2 separate regions of the Homo sapiens genome follow, and region 2 is linked to region 1. Evidence: fine-mapped expression QTL. A gene starts in region 1. The other region holds a variant in brackets. All regions are shown on one strand. Distances are between the middles of the regions. Region 1 holds the start of WNT9A (Wnt family member 9A). Region 2 overlaps ZNF678 (zinc finger protein 678).

The links. PIP is the estimated chance that this variant, and not a neighbour inherited with it, causes the effect.
Region 2: its variant is the best candidate, but not a certain one, in a credible set for the expression of WNT9A in prefrontal cortex (ROSMAP, PIP 0.52).

What each region holds. Positions count from the first base shown.
Region 1 is chr1:227,946,529-227,949,393 of GRCh38, forward strand. WNT9A (Wnt family member 9A) reads right to left here and starts at 1,404. Exons shown (of 4, transcript NM_003395.4): 1 at 1,265-1,404. The coding sequence starts at 1,359. It overlaps LOC124904533 (a long non-coding RNA gene), which reads left to right. Exons shown (of 2, transcript XR_007066912.1): 2 at 174-775. RefSeq lists silencers at 226-335, 1,439-1,518 and an enhancer at 1,309-1,358.
Region 2 is chr1:227,580,958-227,583,864 of GRCh38, forward strand. The region is part of intron 1 of ZNF678 (zinc finger protein 678); the gene reads left to right. Among named protein-coding and RNA genes, the nearest start is that of ZNF678, 19 kb to the left of the region's middle. The variant A/AT (reference allele first, on the strand shown) is at 1,530.

The DNA.
Region 1 (2,865 bases):
GTACCCACAGTTGGAGCCAGGAGAGGGCTGCGGGTGGGGGCCCCAGGGAACTGAGACACCGGGCTGACCCTGGAAGACGACCCAGAAGAAAGGAACAGAGAGAAGAAAGGGAGAGAAAGAAAAACACAAAGGGAAAGTTTCCCATGAAAATATTTTATTTTCTTTGAGAACAGGATACACCTGCAGGGCTCCTCGGCCCAGGCGGCCTCTCCCTGCCCGGGCGGGTGCCAGATTCCTGGACCAACGGGGCCCTCTGCCGGCCAGCCCGCCGCGCGCTGGCGCTCAGGCCAGAGGGCCGGGAACAGGTGACCGGCGGAGGGCGGCGGCCCGGCTGAGGGAGCGGCCCAGGGCGTCCAGGTCGGGGGCTGGGATCCGAAGGCCAGCCAGGGCTCCCAGCGGCGGCGCTCGGGGTAGGAGGCTGGAGGGTGGCGGGGAGGCCCGGGGCGCTGCCTCGCACGGCGCCACCCTGCACCTCAGCGCGCCCAAAGCGCAGCGAGGGTCCCTGTAAAGGTCGCAGGACTGGGCATCCCAGACCTCAGAGAGGGGGAGGGAAGAAGGAAGGGAAAGAAAGGAAGAGAGAGACGCGCCGACAGCCCGGCAAAGCGCTGCTGCAGAGACACGTGAGCACGGGCAATGACACCGCGGGACGCCCCGGCCGGGCCCTGCGCTCCCGGCCAGGTTCCATGGACGCGCTCCCGCGGGCCGGGGCCCGGGCCACAGAGTCAGAAGCAAAGCGCAAGAAAAATAAATTCCTCCAGCTTGGAGGATTTCTCTCTTTCTCTCTCTCTCTCCGTTTGGGGCTCAGCGCGAGGAACATCTGGATTTTGTACGTATTTTTGTTATTGTTAAATTAACTTCTCGAGAAGAGAAAGGGGGGGAAGCTGCTAGGTGGGCGATGGCCAGGGGCTGAGGACTCAGGCTCCAGCCTTTTGGCAAGGACACGGCGGCCCAAGGAAGTCGGGACCTGATCCCAGTCCCTAAGCGCGAGGCAGTCCTGCTCACGGCGGCGACTACGACGACGACGACTCTGCGGTCACGGAGGACCGCGGCCCGGCGCAAGCCGGACGGGTCCACCCGCCTCTCTAGCCGTGCCGCGCAGCGGACGGAGCGACGCGCGCGCCGCAAACAAACAGCGCCAGGCAACCCGGCGGCCCCGCCGCGCCCCGGCCCCAGCCACCCCGGGTGCCTCGGGGACTCCGGACGACCCCGCCCCGGCCCCGCCGCCCCCGCCCACCAGTGCGCGCCGGCCGCCGAAGGCACCTACCCGAAGTAGGCGGCCGAAGGGCGCAGCGCGGCGAGCAGCAGCGTCAGCCCGAAGGCCGCGGCCAGCCAGCGCGCCAGCGGGGACCCATCCAGCATCTTGCCGCGCCTCGGCGGCCGACCATCGCGCTCCCAGCTCCGCGCAGGGCGCGCCGCGGCCGCCGCCCTCTTATAGCGCCCGGAGCGCGGCCAGCTGGGCCCGGCCCCGCCCCGCGCCCGGGAGGGGATCACGCCGGCGCCGGGGGCGGGCCGAAACCCGAGCCGCGCGCGCCAGCCCGCCAGCCCCTCCCGGCCACTCGGGGCCCCGGCCGCCGCTCCCGGCGCGGGTCTCGGGCGCGCCCTGCCCGGCGGGGATGGAGGAAGGGGAGGCGGAGAGCGGTGGGAACCGAGGGCGGGGCGTGCGAGAACCCGGGGCGACCACGGCGGGACGGCATTGGGGGGCCGGAGGCGGGCATCGGGAAGCGGGTAGAGCGTTGGGGGCGCTGCAGTGGGAGCTTGGGGCGGCCCCCGGGGCGGGATTGAGGGGGAGGGGAGGGGAGGCGTTGGCCGCCGGGCTAGCCGCCGGCGGGGCTCCAGGCCGGGACGGTCGGGGATGGTTCCACAGAGGACCCAGCCGTCTGCCCCGAGCTGGGCGCTGCGCGGCTGCTCCGGGGGAAGCTTGGTGAGGAGGAGTCGGGCCAGCCGGTGATGCCTGCGCCTCTTGCGCATGCTGACCCCCTCAAGGAGCGGGGCCAGAGAATCGCTCCTTTCTGGCAGGGACTGTGGCCGCTTTCGGCCTGGGAATGAAGCGACGTAGCCTGCTGGGGCTGTGAGGTGAGTAGCTCTACCTTTTGGGGTCCTGATGGTCTCCCCATTCTTAAATTGTGGGAGTGGAGCTAGCGGCTAAGTCAATGAAACACCAGCCATCGGGCAACGCCCTTCTCAGAGCCTGTGTCCTGGCCGGGACGGGGAGAAAGAGGACTCCTGGGATGGAAGGTGCACACCCAGGCAGCTGGAAGCGCTCAGTCACAGCCCGGGGACTCGTCCCCTCTGCGATACGGATTCGGAGCTGCTTCTGAAGCAGAATGGTGTCAGAGGACCCAGAGCTGGCATTAGGATACAGGTGCACACATTCCAGACAGACCTGGGGGTGGCATCCAGGAGAAGGCTTATAAGTTCCCTGGATGGGGCCTCTGTGCCATGCAACAAGGGACACAAGAACAGGGCTTGGGGTCCAGGCTGGCGGTGGCATGCCTGCCACCTGCAGACCCTGGTCAGTGCAGGATGGTGCCTCCAACACGGGCTAGGCTGCCAAGGCTGAGGACACAGGGCCAGCGAGCCTGCCCAGCCACGTGCTGCAGGGGCCTCAGAGACCTGGGCTGCGGTGCCAGGTCTCTAGGCAGTGCCCTCTGTGCCTGCAGGGACTGATTCTGGCACAGTGACCGCAGAACCTGGGGGGCGGAGCACATGCCCCCGGAAGGCTGTGAAATCCCGCCAGTGGCAGTGACAGAGGCGAATATGAGGGTCCTCAGAGGAAAAACAAAGAAGATAGGAGCAGCAGAAAATGGCCCCCACGAGGATCTGAGCCAACCTCGCCACCCCTAGGGCTCCCGGCCCTGCTTCCCT
Region 2 (2,907 bases), 370 kb before region 1:
ATAAATTAATATTGCAAGAGTGATACATTTAGAGTATGGACTTCTATATAAAGGTCATGTACAATTTTCACTGGATAATTTTCAAAGTCTTCAATATGAATGCTGAAATGAAAAAGGTTTAATAAATATGAAGAAAAGGAGGAAAAAGAATAGAAAATGTAGTATGGTTTCTTAGAAATATAAAATCCTTATATTTATTTATAATTTGTATCCTGTCAATTGCTAAGAAAAGTATTAGGGCTTGTCATTAAAATTATATTGAAGTATATTATACATATATAAATATACATAAGTTATAAGTATATAGCTTGATAAATGTTAGAAAATTCTGCAACATACCTAGGTAACTAGCCCTCAGTTCAAGAAGGAGAGCATTAAAAAGAGGAATAAAGAAAGAAAAGAAGGAAGGAAGGAAGAGAGGAAAAGAAAGAAAGGAAAAATTAAAGGAAGCATGGATTACTAGAAATCTAGATGCCCTCTTGTAGTTTCTGCCTATCCACCAAGTGCAAACATTACCCTGATTTCTAAAACCATTAAGTAGTTTTGTCTATTTATGAACTTTATGGTCATAAAATGTGTACTCTTTATGATTGGCTTCGTTCACTCAACATTCTTAGTGGCGCATTGCTTCTTTTTCATCCATAATCTAATCTATCTATACTTATTGCTGTATTGTATTCCATTGTATAAAATCAACTTGTATTGTTGATAAAATTTCGATTGTGTCTAGTTTGGGACTATTATGAATACTCTTGCTTTGAACTTTTTAGTGCATGTCTTTGTTGCCAAGGTAGTCACATTGCTGTATGCTAGAGACCTAGAAAAAGTGCTAGATTATAGGTTATGCGTATGTTCAGCTTTAGTATATACTGCCAAATGGTTTTCTAATGTGGTCCTTACAATTTACATTTCCACCAGCAGCGCATGAGAGTTTCATTTGTTGTACACCTTGGCAAACATTTCGTATGTTTTCTTTTTTCATGTTAATTATTTTGGTGGCTATGTAACTGAACTGCATTGAGATATAATTTGCATTTCCTTGATAACTAATAAAGTTGATGTCATTTTATATGTTTAATGGCCATCTGAAGGTAATTTTTCTTAAGTATCAGTTTAAGACTTTTGCATTGTTATATTGCATTGTCTACCTTTTTCTTATTAATTTGCAAATACTCTATACATTCTGGATACAAGTATATTGTCAGATATATACACACGCACACACACACACACGAATATCTTCTTCCACTCTAGTTTTTTATTTTCTTAATTTTGATAATAATTTCTTAAATTGAATGTAGTCACATCAATTTTTCTTTTTTTCTGGTTATTTTTGTTAATTAATTTGTTATTATATATGTATATATGTGTGTATGAGATAGGTTTTACTCTGTCACCCTTGGTGAAGTGCATTGACATTGTCATAGCTGACTGTAGCCGCAAACTTCTGGACTTAAGCAATCCTTCAATCCTTCCATCTCAGCTTCCCAGGTAGCTAGGACCACAGGGGCATGCCACTTGCCCAGCTA[A/AT]TTTTTTTTTTTTTTTTTTTTTTGTAGAGACGCATTCTCACTATGTTGCCCAGGCTGGTCTTGAACTCCTTCCCTCAAGTGATTCTTCTGCCTAATCCTCCCAAAGTTCTTAGATTACAGGTATGAGACACCACACCTGGTCCTGGTTTCTATTTTTAAAAGTTTTGCCAATTATAATACATATGTCACTCTTATGTTTTCTTCTAAGAGCTTTATAATTTTAACTTTTGCATTCAGAGCTACAGTCATCTATAATCAATTTATGTGTGTGGCCTGAGATAAGAATCAAGATCTTTTCTGTGTGTGTGTGTGAATGTCTAATAGGCTTGGCACCACTAGTGCCAGTATAAGACATTATTTACTTACTGCACTGTCAACTTTGTCATTAATAAGTTGGTCATATATATTTTGTAAAAGTAGTTCTTAAAAGGATTATATTTTAGTTGAAGGTTAATTGGCAATTTCTGATAGGTAAAGTCCCTAGTTTTGTTTGTTCTGTTTATATTGCATTCTGGCTTTCTTACTTAGAAACCTAAAGCACTGGAACTGCCACTATAATAGCCTCCCTGTTAAGATTTTTAAACACTTGTTTTTATTTATTTTACTTATTATGTATCCGTTGCTCTGACTCCTTAGAAATAATAGATCCGTTGGGTCTATTATTTCTAAGTTCTATTGGTAACCTTTACATCTAATAACTGTTCACAGCATACCTGATGTCTTATTCCATGTATGATTCAGTAGACATCCAGGCAACAAATATTATATTTATGAACCCCTACTATTAATTCTTCCTTTTCTATAATGATAACTTTGCAACAATTCAATAAGTCCATTTTAGAAAATTTCTTTTTTTTTCTTTTTTCTTTTTTTTTTTTTTTTTGAGACAGAGTCTTGCCTTGTCGCCCAGGCTGGAGTGCAGTGGCACAATCACAGCTCCCTGCAACGTCCACCTCCCAGGTTCAAGCAATTCTCATACCTTGGCCTCCCAAGTAGCTGGGATTACAGGCAATTCCACTTTTGATTTAACTTTGTCAGGAGTTCCTTGACCACTGTCAGAATTGATGACTCATTAGAAAAACTAAAAACACTTAGAAAAACTGTTACATTTATGGCTACAATTTATTAAATAGAAAAGATACAGATTATATTTAGGGAAAAAAAAATAGGAGGTAGGAAAGCTTTCAAAGGAGACCAAGTGCATGCCTCCAGTTGTCCTGTCACAGTGGAGTCACACAAGCAGTACATAATTTTCCCAGTCATAATGTGACATGTGCAAAGTTTTGCCAAGTAGAGAAACCAACCAGAGTCTTGGTGTCCAAAGTATTTTGTTGGGATTCAATTGCATAGGCATGCATTGGGCACATGATTGGCTCTA